Homo sapiens: one gene and its partner. The protein of the gene in region 2 interacts with the protein of the main gene of each other region in a pairwise test. Each region holds a gene or a part of one and is shown on either strand. Other genes may lie near its edges.

Evidence for each region.
Region 1: the proteins of CORIN (region 2) and EMP1 interact in binary tests that used the Homo sapiens proteins (3 or more experiments, as listed by UniProt).

Annotation. Positions count from the first base shown.
Region 1 is NC_000012.12:13,199,594-13,206,864, reverse strand, and holds part of EMP1 (epithelial membrane protein 1), read right to left. Parts: intron 1-7,271.
Region 2 is NC_000004.12:47,834,997-47,843,161, forward strand, and holds the start of CORIN (atrial natriuretic peptide-converting enzyme), read right to left. Parts: upstream 3,072-8,165; 5' UTR 2,954-3,071; coding exon 2,891-2,953; intron 1-2,890. UniProt on the Homo sapiens protein: Serine-type endopeptidase involved in atrial natriuretic peptide (NPPA) and brain natriuretic peptide (NPPB) processing.

The DNA of each region.
Region 1 (7,271 bases), on a different chromosome or scaffold from region 2:
GGCAGCCTAACACTTTTAGGGTTCTCTGACCAGTGAGAAATTACTCAGGCCCCCATGGGAGCCTTTCCTTTTCTGGTGGGTAACTAAATCTGCAGAGACTTTGAGAAGAATTGACTTCTAAGGACCAGAAGGGAAGTTTAGAGGTGCATAATTTGGTTCCCTGATTGCTAACCTAGGAGTCAGATAACTTCTTCCTGTCCAGAAGTCTGTGTGTTCACTGAACTGCCATGGGGCCTGGCGGCAGCAGCAATTCTTTAAGAGTGACCTAAAACACAATAACTGGGAGCAACACAATAGAATAGAGCAACCAAAAACCCACTTCCCCAGTGAAGGAAGTGGTCAAAATCCTGGGGCTTGAGTCACTGAAGAATTAGCCCTAGCTGAGGGGTGGGAGGGGAGCATGCTCAGAAATCAGGAGCTGAAGACGATGCAAACACTGGGGGAGGCCCTCAGGGCTCAAATTTCCATGATTCATTTGAGAGTGGGTGAGATTCTCCCAGAATGAAAGGCATCATGGAGACCTTCTCTACAAAAGGGCACGAGAGAGCTTTCTGAGAAGCAGGGTATGGATCTGGCTGGCATTTCCCTGGCAGCTTAAGAAAGGCCAGGATTTTTCTGGGGAGAAAAGAGCAGTAATGACCACTGCCAAATGTCCTATCTTCCCTTCCCCTCATTCCACTTTTGTTGCCCAAAACATCACAGTCCTACCCTGAGTTTCTACCTCCATTACTTATCTCACATCCTTCCTTATGTTCTATTCCCATTGCTACTGTCCAGTTCAGGTCCTAGCCTGACCATGGCATCAGCCTCACCCATGACCCTGTCTCTGAACAACTCCCCTCTAACATATCTTCTACCCTGCTACTGGGTTATCTGACCATGGCACTCCCCTGCTCAAGAACCTCCAAACCCCCACCTCTAACCACCACCAATCAGCAGGAAAGAGGCTCCACGCACCTCAAGCCAGCCCTTGCAATCCCAGGACTTGGATTTCCAAAAATAAAAGCTCTGCTTTTGTATTCTTCTTTCAGTGACAGTCTATCAAATTCTTTTCAACCAAGCTAAAATCCTACCTCTTCTAAAAAGCCTTCCCAGATCCATAGGTTAGGAGCAGTTTTCTTTTCTCTCTTCTTCTATTGCCCTCACATAGCTTTTTATTAAAACCACTGATGACAGCCCTAAGATTTTAAGTCCCTGAAGGGAGAGTCTTGCCTGTGACAGGTACCAAATAAATATCTGTTCAATGAACAAATAAATGAATTAAGGATGGCCATATTTTCTTCCCCATGGAAAAATAATCAATGTCAAAATGACTGAAGACTTCATAATAAACACAGAATTATAGAGGGAAAATATTTCCTTTTTTTTTTAACATACATAGACTTTAGTCCTTTATTATTTTTCAGAAATTGCTTAATACTTTACTACAACTATGTATTGAGCATCTTATTGTATGCAAACTTTGTTATATATTTCTATATAAATACCTATGTAAATATGTGACTGTTTCCTGAGTGCATTTGAATATACAAGGGTATATATGTGTGTGTTGCCTTTTGTTCAAGAGGAAATAAGTGAATGCAAAGAAAATGTCTTAAATTTCTAAACACTAGTTTGTCTGCAGATTTAATCTTTCTCTCTACTTCTTTGAATTATAGAATCTCAGGACTGAAGAGGGAGGTCTTTAAAATTCCTTTTCAATTCAAGAAAGTCATCTACAAATCTGACCAAAGAACTATCTGAATCATGCTTAACCTCCTCCAGTCATGGAGAGCTCACTACCTACCAGGATCCCTTCCCCGATTAGAAAGATTTTTCTGACAATACGTCCGAGTGTGCTCTTTGCAACGACCACCATGACTTTTAATTCTGCCGGTGAGATTACCTGACTAGACTAATTCTTCCTCTTTCTAGCATGGTTGTCTTCACAGCAGAACTACCAGGTTATCAGAAGATTCACCAGAGGCCTTCACCTTAGATCTCAAAATCTCAGTCAAGTCATAACACAGTCCTGAGATTACTGCTAGACACTCCCTGTCTTTTTGCTGGCCAGTGTTTTTCTGACAGTGAGATTCTGATCTCTTTCTGGATAACTGTAAACTTTGGAGAAAGCTTTCTCACAGCATCTGACCAAAGACGTGGTGCTTCCTCCAAAGCACGAGGAGAGAGAGAGGCGTAGCCGCTTCTGGTCAACTGACCCCCATGAGTCAGACGACCCCACACCACCTTCCTCAGCGTGACACCTGAAACTCCGCAGCTGCCTCTCCTTCCTAAGACACCACGCAGGGTGGCACGAAAGCCTTTCTGTCCTCTGCGCAAGTCGGGAGCATTTTGCTTTTGTTGGTTTGGTTTTGATGTGTTTGTTTCCCATGAAGGATCATTTGGTTGGCAAAATGGATGCGCATGTAACACAAAAGCAGAAAAGGAAGCACTCCCTTCTGGGGGCAGCCGGAGAGGATGTGTCTGGAGGAGGAAAAGACTGGGATTAAAGGCAGGCTGAGTGGATGAGACCTTGGATGAGCCTCTCTGGCCACTGTTATTGTTGTTTTATATCAAGTGTACTTTTCCATTCTCAATATTGTGTTTATGCAGGGGTGGGAAAGCAGGGGATTAATTTCTCCGTGGGAAACATGGGGAGAAAAAGGATTCTCAGGGGCCATTTCCTCCGGCCTCTGCATAGCTCATGTTTGGTGTGGAAGGAAGGAACCTCAGGTAGGACTTGATGTTGGAAAATACAGGGCAGTTTTTACAACCAGGAGAAACATCGTCAATCAAGCAGCAAAAGTAACAGGGACCTACATGCTGCAGGGAAAACAATTATTTTTTTCATCTTCCAAATGCAGGCTATTATAAATGGGGGTTATTATACAGCAAGTCGTGTTGGTCTGGTGCTGTGTAGACTAGCACAGAGTCTCACATAGTCAGGGGTGAGGAGCCAAGGTGTGGGTTGGGAGTGGGGCAAGCACACTGTATGAGAGAGAGAGAACCTATTGGAGAACCAGATTCTTATAATAAATCTGCCCCTGACCAACTTCTGACTTTAGAAAAATCACATAACCTCTCTGGTCAGTGGCTCCTACAGGCACAGAGTTCAAAGTAGCACAGAGCAGGGATTCTCAGCTCCAATCCTGGCTCCACCATGTCTGAACTGTGACCTGTAGACCTCACAGGATTAGCATGAGGGCTGAAGGCCTGTGCCAGGCACAGAGTGGGGGCCACACAGTTCCTGGTTGGTTGGTCTCTTCCTCTGTGTAAAATGAGAGGCTCGGGCCGGGGAAATGGGCTTTATGCTTCTCTGGCAGAGCCTGAGGGCCAACAATTATGCTAAAGGCAAACAAGTGGCATGAATATTGTTTTTGCAAATGCTCCCAAGAAGAATAACCTCTCTCTCTTATTTCCGCTTGTCCTCCTTCGTGTCCAGGGGAGGGGTGGATCTGGGCAACATCTGCAAAGACTGAGGCCAGACCTGGGCTGTGAAGTTGGGGCCCAGCCTACTCCCCCAGACTGCAGCTGGTCAAGGGATCAGGCGATGTTCCCTGGGCGAGGACGGAAGCGTGAGTTGCCTTCTGCTTTTGACAAACGAGTGTTCTGGCAGCCAGAATGTCTTCAAGGGAGAGGTTGCCAAGATAATAACTAGGGGTTTGGGAAGAAAACCTAGGTGTGGCCCGGCCCCAGCGGCGCTTGGGTGGGACCAACAGTAGATGGCGGCAACATGCTTCAACCAGCAAAGCTGCAGCCTCCTGGAAGGCGGCAAGCTGGGAGGGGAGGCCCCTCGCCTAGAGACACCCCAGACCCATCAGGTGGGCTCAGGGCTTCATTTCAATTCGTTCTTTAGAGGTTGAGAGGCATTGAGGTCATTCAGTCCAACCCCTTGATAAGAAGGAAATGCACGTCCCCAAAGGAGAAATGGAATTGAATCAGAACTGAAGCCATTTCGCACCTTCCAGGCAGGGCTCTTCCACCTGGCATGATTTTTTCTCTCCTGTCTCTTGGCTTAGGGTTTGGTGGAAGTTCTAGAACTTCTACCAGATCTACTGTTCTCTCTTTTCCTCCTACCCTCTCTGAGTTAATCAGAGAGTCAGCATATACCCCTTAAAACTGTGCCAATTATAAAAACACAGGGTCTTCCGAGGCCACTGCTTCTCCCTGTCGTTTTGCTGAGAAGTCCCACCCAGCAGAGCCAGCCTGCCTGGCCAAAACAGACCCGAACAATATCCCCCTGCAAACTCCGAGCAACCTTCTAACCCTCAGCACAGGAGTCCCCACCCCACCCAGACATGGAGACTATCTTTCAATAAAGGGAAGCTCCAGGTCTCAGCTTCAGAGCTTTCTCTGAGATCAATGTGAACACACTGCCTTGCCCCAAACTAGTTGTTTCAGGGTTGCAAACCTCTGTCCAACTCCCCTTCTCCAGCGTCCTGGGGAAGGGTCTTTGATTCTTTGAAATGAGAAGTCTAAGGATCAAGAACCCCGTTTTGCTCTCAGCTCTGATCTGACCTGGAAGAGGAGAAACATTGAAGAGGTTCCAGCCTGGTGGGCACATGTAGTGGAAACTAAAATGATACCAAAGAGGTGTCAACCATCCTGAAAAAACAAGAAGTAGCCAATGCGACAAAAGATTCTTCACAGGGGACAAAGAATCGAATTTTGACCGAAGGACTGCCTTGAAACATTGAGGGTGGGTGGTCCCCAAACAAGAGTGGAAGGATGGAAGGGGAAACATCCTCATCACTTCTCCCTTGCTCTTTTGCCCCCTTTCTGTCTTTCTCTATCCACTTAGCTTTTTCTCCTGCTTCTAGGTCTTTCTGCCTGCCTCCTCCCTCAACACACAGGCCTGGGAAACAGCATCCCACTTGCCCTCCCTCCCTCCCTCCTGTCCTAGTTGCACCTTCCTCTTCCTCCTCTCAAACTGTTCCTCATTTGCTCCTGTCCACACCTGTACACCACACCTTCATGCTGCAGGGTCTCCCTCCTCAAGAAGAGGGTGGAGTTTCTTTCCCAGAGCCAGCTCAGTTTCTCCCTGAGCCTGATTCTGTTCCTGGTGAATGCTTTGCTGTTGTCAATGTCTTCACAGACTCAGCCTGCCCTCCTCATCTGAGCTGGCACCCTTTACGTTTAATTACTCAAACCTCTTTCTTTTATTCCTAGTGCCGAGTGAATGCTCATGGCTGAGGGTAAGTCCGGGGAACACCATACCTAAAGAATCTGTGAGTGGATGGGGCAGAGGAGGCTCCGTGGGTCCTCAAGGCACCCAGGAGACGAGAATCCTCTGCAAAATGCCCTTTTCAATGCCACACGTTGCCCTATTTCACTTTTCTATCAATTTTTACAGATTAAGCCAGCTGCTAGCATCAGCGCAAGGGATATCTCAAAATAGAAATGGTAGGATCTTAATTTTTTTGTTTTTCGTTTTTTTGGTGTTTTTGTTTGTTGGTTTGTTTTGTTTTTGTTTTTTTTGAGACAGGGTGTTGTTTCATTGCTCAGGCTGGAGTGCAATGGTACAATCATAGCTGACTACAGCCTCAAAGCCCTGGGGCTCAATCAATCCTCCTGCCTCAGCTTCCCAAGTAGCTGGGACTACAGGCATGCACTACCACACCCTGCTTTTTAAAATTCTTCTTTTAGAGACAGGGTCTCACTATGTTGCCCAGACTGGTCTCAAACTCCTAGGTTCAAGTGATCCTCCCACCTCAGTCTCCCAAGTAGCTGGGATTACCACGCCTGGGTGAATCTTAGAATCTCAGAGCCATAAGGGGTCTGAAAGAACCACCAAGTTCAACTTCCGAAAGCAAGAAGACAAGTGTCTCGCCTGTGGTTACATGGCAGCGTCAAGATAACACCACTGCCCCTCTGTCTTCCTAGTCAGCTGTCTTACATCTGCTCCAGGATTCTTGCCACGCTTTCAACCTGTGCTGAAAGGGCTCTCTAGTTTAACTACCCGGTTTGAAGAAACAATTCATGAAACAGGCTCAGCAAATAGAAAAACTGTCACAGCCACGTAAGTCCAAGCGCACCAACAGCAGAGGATTCCATTGCAGTTCCAGGGAAATGCCATCTCCACAACACAAAAGAAAACCTTGACCCAAACATTTTGTTAAAAAGGAAGAGAGAAGCAGCAATCACCACAGGTGTTTGTGCTTTCATCTTTCTGCTTTAGTATCAGTGAATCTCCCAGGTAAATTGAAGGAAATGGTTTTACCCAGGCAGGACACCAGGGACTGAATTGTTGCAAAGAGCAGTCTCAGGACGTGTGTATGTCGGGGCTGGGTGCTGAAGATTCAAGTAAACCCCTAACTGGAACCATATTTGGGCTTCCTTGATTACTGAATAGCAAGTGCAGTCCAGAAATTCAAGATCACCTGGGCGGATCTGGGAAGAGTATTAGAAAAGGGAAGCTTATGGTGAGAAAATTCCCGTTCTACGCTGGTTAAGGGTTAGGAGCTCTTCTCAAGGGGCTGATACCCAGATTGCTGGCCAGCAATTACAAGGAGGCTACATTTGATGGGCAGCCTGTTCCCGTAATTACTATGATGGGTGGTGACAATGTATAGGTGTGGGCTACATGAACTATGGACCAAATTATGGGACAATCCCCAAAAGGCCTAGCTAGAAGCCTGTGTCCTGGTATTGGATTGATCTAACCATGACCTAGTAGGTAGCAACACTGGGTGTGTCCCTCCGAGTATGTACATCTGAGAGTCCCAAATAGGCCTGAGCTTTTGTGTTAGGCAGCTATGTACATACATGTGGGAGGTTAAAGAAGGAACCATATTCATGCATTTAGAAAATTAAATACCTCCAAATCAAAAACCCCGTGAGTATGATTGACTATGTACATAATTCCAAACTTCAAAAATGCTCCCTGCCCTTCTGAGCCTTAGGCAAAAAAAAAAAAAAAAAGAAGAAGAAGAAGAAGAAGAAAAGATAATGCAATGTAGATCCATCAAGTTGTATTCATTAAATATTAAATAGGCGTTAAGTGTTTAGAGGATGAGAATCATTGGGTGGAGCAACAACAAAACCAGAATAGATATTTTCTGAGTTGTTTCAGGCCAGCAGAATCAGGAAGTTATAAGGAAGTTGATTTTGCTTGATTTAAGGAACTTTAATAAAATTAGAGTTGGCCTGCTAAGGGGAATGAGTGTGGAGGTACACACTGAGGTTCTGAGCTCCCCGCATCTGGAAATTTTAAGATCTGTAGGATGGCCATCTGTTCAAGATGGTGTAAAAATTAGATTTCTGCATACAGTAGGAGAATGAATGAGATCCAA
Region 2 (8,165 bases):
CCAAAGCTCCTACTCTTCCCACCAAGGCAGGTCATCTACAGCACCTTCTACTCTTAAGGGGTCTGCCATTTCCACCCTCTCTGAACAGACATAAAACAAACAAGTGTATTATGTCTGTGTGTGTCTTTATGTGAGTGTGTAGACTCTGAGGAACAGGTAAGTCTTGGAATCCCTTGAGTGTTTAGTGTGAACCTAGTATGTTTAGCCAGCCAGTATCAGGTCAGTACCCTTTAGCCAGCCAGCCTCATTTTCCATTTGGTCCAGCAAAATGGAATGCCAAGAATAGTGATGGGGCTAACAGGATGCATGAATCCATACTTGTTGAATAACTTATTAGGTAGAAGTAGCAGGTCAAACAAACCTTTCCCCCTCAGATACGCTCAGCAACAATTCAGTGTTGCGGCTCTCCTGCTCCTCAGAGAGCTCTTATTACCCCAGCAGTGGGGACACTCAGAAACCCTAAGACCACAAGTCTTTGTGTTGAAAGAGGCTACAAGTGCGGAAAAGAGGAAAAATAAGGAAAGGAGTACCTCATTAACAGTATGGAGATTTGAAAGTACAGGCTTTTGAAAGTGACTCTCTGAAGCTCCTGGGCCACTCAGCTTCTCCTCTAACTTCCTGTCTGCCCCCAACAGTGGGGGAGGTCAACAGAGGGGCTGGCCAGTCAATAGAACTAGCAACTGCTGAAATCCACATGAAGCTATGGTGGAGAATGTGACCCTTCCAAAAGGAAACCACAGCTGGTTGTGGAATGCAAGATGCGGAAGCACTGATGCCTGCCTTCTATGCTGTTGCTATTGTGATTTCTGCAGCATTATGAGGAAGGTTTCTGATGGAATGAATTTTGCATCTTTTAAGAAAGTGTCTCTGTACCTGGATATGTGCTTGATAAGGTTAATAGAGCAATTCTTGGTGTGTCTTTTTAACCCACAGGAAGGTTAACAGAGGCTTTCATCGTTGGTCCTGTAAGCCTACCCTGAAAGGAACTTTCTGGAAAGAGTCCCCTCCCCCTTAAAAAATGCCTTATAGAATCTTGGGGTTTTGAGGTTGATGTGTTTCCACACCCAAATAACCCCAAAATAGTTCATCCTATTGAAATTCTTGGTGTCCTGGAAAGCATTCTATGGAAAACCTGCCTGGTCAGCCAAGCCCACACGTGAGTCTATGCAGACATCTCCTCTAACCTCGCAAGCCCCAGGAACCTCCTCTAACCTCTCAAGTCCCAGGATCTGAGGACCAATTTTTAGCACAATCTCACACAACAAACCTATTGGGCACCTAATAATAGAAACAAGCTAATGAATGTTTTGACTGTGACAAAAAAAAATGGTTTAATAACTTTTTATAAATGCATTGTTTCTTCTCATTGTCTCAGGGTTATGCCAAAATTAATTTCAAAACTATCTGCTTAAATGTGTCCTTGGACAATAATCACCAGTAAGTCCTGACTTCACCCCCTTTCTGGTAGCGGTCTGACGTTCCTTTGCAGAGTTTCGCTTCCATCGATAAGTTACTTTAAATAAAAAGTTAAAATAAAAACTAGAAGCCACAATTGTGCCTATGTCAGTCATCGAAGTCTTGTACAGGAGTCCGTCTTCGCAGCGCATCGTTCTCAGAAGTTTCCCGCGGGAGGAAAGCTCCACTTTATGAATTACTCGAACAGCTTCCCTGGGAATGCCCAGCCCCGAAGCTTCCCTGCTGAATTCAAAGTCAGAGCTCCCAGGGCTCGGTCCCAGGAACCGGGAGCCGTGCAAAAAGCGCGTACACTGCCATCCACTGGCCCCGAGCAGGTAGTAGCAGGAGTGAGGCGCCTGCCACGGGAGCTCAGGAACTGGGTCCCAGTAAGATCCGACAAGACACCACCTCCCTTCCGCCCGCACAGCCTGCCCTCTCTGCCTGCAGCTAGCGTCACCGGTCGGTCCCCGATTCGGAGCAGCTGGGACCCTCGCGGTAGCAAGCGGATTCCGGGGCCCTAATGACACCGAAGGAGAGGGGCAGCCGCAAATTAGACCTTCTTCCTGGGGGCTCAGGCCAGTAGGGACTGTCCGTGGTGCCCTTCCCTTTCTTTCTCCTCCTGAACGAGAGCCAACGCTGCCCCTTCCCAGGACTGGATCTGAGCCAACCAAATCCTACAGCGCAGAGCCTGCGCCCCCGGCGGCCAGCCCTCCTGTGCCTAGGCAGGTTCACGCCGGAGAAAGTTTGCACGCAGGGACCTACAAGTTCCCAGCACTCTGCAAGAGGGCCAGTTCTGGGATGCCAGCACTTAGGACGGGCGAGTGATCCCCAGGCACCAACTGGGGGCCGGGGAACCAAGCGCGAGCCCGGGCTGTGGAGGGACCGACACCCAGGCGCTCGCAGCTGGGGAAGGGGGCTTACGTCTGGGGCAGGCAAGACTGCTGCACAGTCCCTCCAGCCACCCGGCGCCCGAGACGCCGGCGCAGACAGGAAGCTGTAGATCCCCGAGGGGCTGGCTCCGACAGCTCCACCTGCAGCCTCCCCTGCCGCCAGTGTGCAGCCAAGTCCACTAGATGCTTGGAGGGCACCGTGCGGAGGAGGGACTCTGCAGGAAAGGTGGCATCACCCCCGGCATGGAGACCGGGGTCTCCGGATCGAGCCGACTCGAACACTGAAGGAAACCCTGCCCATGACCCTGGGAGGGTCTCGGACGCCGGGCGACCGGGGTGGTGGTCGGGACCAGGGCCGTGCGCCTGGGAACTGGGTGCAGGGCGCTGAGCGCGGAACTGTCAGAGCGGGAGCTCACCGGCGGCTGGGGAAGGAGGTGGCATCGGGCGGAGGAGAGGACGGGGGCGGGAGGGGCTGACCCTGAATTCACCGGGACTAAGAGGCCATCACACCTGGCTGCGGTAGGACAGCGAATCATCGATCTTACCGGCTTTGGGGACCCGGCTCTGCGGCAGCGCTCTTCCGGAGCGAGGGCAGGAGACTGTTTCATGGATAAAAAGTCTCGCTTATTCTTCTGTCCACTTTTATCTTGGTCGCTTTTCTCTCCTCTACGTGTCCCCCGGGGAGGCACTACGGATGATTTTCTCCAAGCTCAAGAGAGACAAACTGAACTTTAAGCGCCAGGGGCCCCATATTTTGTCTGCTCTACAGATCCCACCCGCGGGCCACACCCTCCCTTCACTCCCGTCTCTGGGTCCCACCCATAATAACCCGTAATGACAGATCCTCCGTGTCCCCACCTCTTTGCATTCAAAGAAGTTATTCTTCAGGGGCATATGGAAAGTCAGTTTCTGCTGGTCTCCCTCAAAAACTTACACTCCACGAGGGCAGCAGAAAAGGACAGGACGATTAAGTTTAAGTTGTGGAAGACTGGTTGGGAGCAAAAGAGTTACTTTTCTCCAAATTTGCCATATCACATCGAAAGCATTTTCTTTTAACCAGAGTGTAGCCAATCAAAATTAACTGCAGGCGCTGGCAATTAAAGAACAAGTTTATCTCAAAAAAGGTTTAACGTTTGGAGGCCATTATTTGCATCAGGCATATGGAAACTTGCGTTCTGTTAGGTATGCTGAAGAAACTGCTTTTGCCAGACTGCCTGAGTCTTTGCTGAGGCTGCAGGGACAAGGGAGAACCCCACCCTGACTGCTTCCAAAACCCTAGTTCCTGATTTCCTGCAGAGGGCACCTACAGGCTGAACCTAAAAGGCGAACAAATTCCTGCCTGTCATTCAAAAGCAGCTACCTTTTCTAAGGCAGCGTCAAGGAGGGCACTGGAGGTACTCAACACAGTAATGATTACTTTACCAAGTCCAAGGCAATTGTCAAATGTGGCAAAGAAAAACACTTCATTGGGTTTTTCTTAGAAATGATTTTTCATCCAATTTCAATCAAGATCTTAATGGAAATTTTGAAAATTACTCATGAGGTTATTTAATAAATCCATCCCCATTATTTAAAGAAAGCCATGTAAAGACAACAAAATATGGGCCAAGCACTTGTTCTTGAACATTATTGCTGAGAAAAAAATATGCATTTGTAAAATGGGGGGGGCAGTATTTTGTTTCTGAAGTGAGATCAAATGTAGAAAATATTGCATATGTATAGTAAAATGACTGAAACACTGATTCCATGTTATTCTAACATCCGATTTGTAAACCAGTATCTGACAAATTTATCATAATTCACAATAATTCAGTTCATATTATGTGGCAGGTGTCATACTAAGCACTTTACATGTATTCTTTCAGTTCCACCAACTACTCTGAGGAAGAAGCTATTATTTTTATTTTAGAGATAAGAAAGCAGATTCAGGGAGCTGAAGTGAAGTAACCAGCCTACGCAAGCTAGCAAGAAGCTGAGCTGGGATTCCCCCGAGGCAGTGACTTCTGGATTGTGTTCTTACTAAGATACTACCTCATCACACACCATCACCGCAGTGCCAGTCTGGGAATCAAGAACTGTGAGCAAATCACATAGTCTTTCTGGGCCACAGTTAACTCAGCCTATAACATAAGGGCTGGATTCAATTGCTAAGGTTTCTACAGGCATTCTGAGGCCAAGTACAAGTTTCTATTTCATCTTCTTTCTCTTCCACTTTCTGCCCTCTGGTGGAGGTGCTACAGGGACTATGAAATTAAAGTAGCTACGTCAGTGGATTTGAGATAGGGTCGATCAGTCTCCCTCACTTTTCCACTTTTAGTTCCTCTGAGAACTAAAGCTAATTGCATTAATGGTGTAAAATAAACATTTTTTAAACTTCCTTTTAGCAAGAAAACCCAACCAGTTCTAGTTACCAACAGCACCAGAATTAATACCTGAGGTATTCTTTGCATGAAGGTAATGACATAAAAAATGAGGGTAAAGATGTTTTATATTCTTTATAATAAACTTTTAAAATGTCAAGAATCATAAACTATTAGAAGTCTCAAAACATATTCAAACTGATTTGAATATGCAGTGTGCTCATTAAAATGTCAAGAATCATAAACTATTAGAAGTCTCAAAACATATTCAAACTGATTTGAATATGCAGTGTGCTCATAGTAATCTTTAATGACCTATTTGAATTATTCTTTAAAAAAAACTAGCTACATTTGCATTTCAGCTTCAAGTGACAACCATCATCTAGTTTCTTAAAATAATTTTACAAAAAGAAACATTTCTAGCCTATTGAAACTTTTATTGTCTAGCACTTCAAGCATACATCCAACTAGTTAGATAATTTAAAAGAAAACACACACAAACCTTGAAGAGATTTATGGAAAAATTAAAGATATTGAATATACCTCAGGAAACGGTGATTTTACAGAGCAAACTTCAGCCACATATCACATTACAGATCAAATTAGTACTTAGTACTACAACTGAAGACAATTTAAGAACAAGAAGAGATCACGGAGAAGCAAGCAGCATCCCAGGATGATAACAGGCAAGCAGTAGCTAAAACAGATATGCTACCCCATGGCTCATCTATTTAGCTATTCATTCAACTAATACTTATTTTGGGTTTGCTGGCTGCCAGATGAACAACCTAGACAGAGTTCCTGCCCTCACCAAGACTTTCAGTCTTGTGGAATGTATTAAACAAATACACAAACATGTAAACTATGAAAAAATACTTGCAAATAATGTGAGAATAGCTTTGGGGAGTTAGAATGTAATATTTTCAGCTGAGATATAAAGATACAAAGCCTTCAAAATAAAAAAAATTAAAAACAGCAAGAAAAAGGTAAACTGGAAATTTACCTGTTGCAGAGAGGGGAGAGTTTATTTAGTCAAAAGGGGGAAAACAACATACCCATATGTACTATAATACACTCTAGCCCATTGATATATTCAGTATCTGATAAAACAATTTGTGTAGATCTTCTGTTTGATGTACATAATATTTCTGGGACATCAATCCCCTACTCTAATATACCACAGTAGTCATTGGGAAGGAGGTAATATATGACCCTGTAAGAAATTTCAAAGGAATTTTATTTTTAGTCCTCTCACACATCTAGTGCTATAGAGGGGTCCCATAACTGCAATTTCACTGCCTAAATATGCCCCTACCTTTGGCCAGCATCCCACCCAGTCCTCCCTCAATGACGTGGAGCTCCCTCAATGACATGGAGCTCCCTCAATAACAGTAACCATATGTGCAAAAACTGAGATGCCTCACCTCACCTCACCTCACATCTGATGCCTCAGATTTTTTTTCTGATTTGTGAATCAATTTGAGATGTCTTAAAGTTATGAGGTAAAGTCACATATCTATATTATTGTAGCTAAGCTATTCTATGTACTATGTGCCAGGCACTTCATAAAGTGACATATAATTTTCTAGGTTTTTCATTCTTGAAACAAATCTAGTTTCCTTTGTCATAAAATGAGAAGTGTAATAGGCTCACCTAATACGGTTGTTATGAGGATTACATATAGAAAGTGCTTTAAAATAGCTATAGACACATAATAATAGTTAAAACTTATTGGGCACTTACTGTTATTTCTTATTGTCACCATTTTACAGAAGAAACTGAGGCTTACAAAGTTAAATAGCTTGCCTAAGAGCTCACAAGTAGAAAGTGGTAGAAGCAGAATTGGAGCCTAAAAAATCTGGGACCACAAACTAATCCTTATGTTCTGTAGCAGTTATTAAGAGAAGACTGTGATGAAAACATCCAAGGGGTTTACAGCTTAGAATACACTCTGAATTTTCATTCACCCAATAAATATTTACTGAGCACTGTAGTAGGTTAGTGTCCCCCCACTACTCCCTGCCAAATTAATGTCCACCCAGAACCTCAGAATGTGGTTCTGTGGAAATAAAGGCTTTGCAGATATAATTTGTTATATCTTGGTTTGGGACTTCTGGCCACCTAAACTGTGAAAGAATAAATTTCTGTTGTTTTAAGTAACTCATGTATGGTATCTGTTACAGCAGCCCTAGGAAACGAATACTAGCATCTACTATGTGGCCAGGCTTCTCTACTCTGAGGTTACAGTAATAAACAAAACTGCACTCCTGCCCTCATGAAGCTTACATTCCAGGGAAGGAGGCAGATAATAAACAGACACTTAATATGAGGACAGGTACTATTTAGTGCTATGAGGAAAAAGTATTGTGAGAAGATAGAGGATGACCAGATGACAGTGACTGGGGGGGGGGGCTTTGGAAATATTAGGTGATGTATTAAGAGAATACATATATGGGATACAGAGGTGTTAACTCAAATGAATCTGGACTGTGGAGTTTCAAACTGCATACAATCCTTCACAGCACGACTTAAATTACTAATTGGAAACTTAGCAAGAAGAGAAGCTTAGTAAGCAATAGACCTGAGCTTGTTCAATAAGCCAAGATTCTAAAATATGTAAAAATGGCTTCCCAGGTGGACACCTGGTCTTGCTTGTCTCTTTAAGTTGCTGGAAATCACAGGGTCTCTCAGTTCCTCCCACCACTCCCAAATTCTCGCATCTTTTCTAGGAGGTAGTAGCTAGTACTTTGCTTCTTCCTCACCCTGGAAGCTCCCCAGCCTCATAAGCCTTGGGTCTTAGAGTGGTCTAATCACTGCCACTCGATAAAGACTGCAACTTCCACAGACCCAAGAAGAGACAGAGCTATCTCATGTCAACTCTAGCTCTACAGCTTAGACATCTGCTTCAGTTCCCAATATCCAAGGACAGACAGACATTAACAGCTAGAGTCACCTGGGTCCTCAGAGGTTCTTTTTACAGCCTTCCTTTTACTGTCCTATACCTGGTCACAGCAATTTTGGCTACTGCTGCATTTTTAGTGTTCTTGGTTTAACACCCAACTAATTCTTTGTTCTTCTGGAGATCAGCATACAGCATCTCCCATTGTTTTAATAATCTTGATTATAAAAGGATGGATGAGGCCCAAGCACCCTAAAAAGTCACCCTTGGCAGTGGGCTAGATCCCCCACATGGGTGGCCTGGCTTAATCTTCACCTGTTTGCTTATGTGGAAGAACCCACAACACAGACCATATGCATAGTGAGGACAGAATCTTCTATTAAGTTCATCACTGTGCCAGGTATCTAGGCAAAGAAAAAAAATATTTCTCAAAGAGAAATGGAACACTTTAAAATAAATCTCTTCAAATTTTGTCTTAAATAGTATATCTATTTCCAAATAAAGCCTGTTTCTGGTATTACTCATGAGCATTTAAAATAACATGAAGAGCCAAAAAATTCT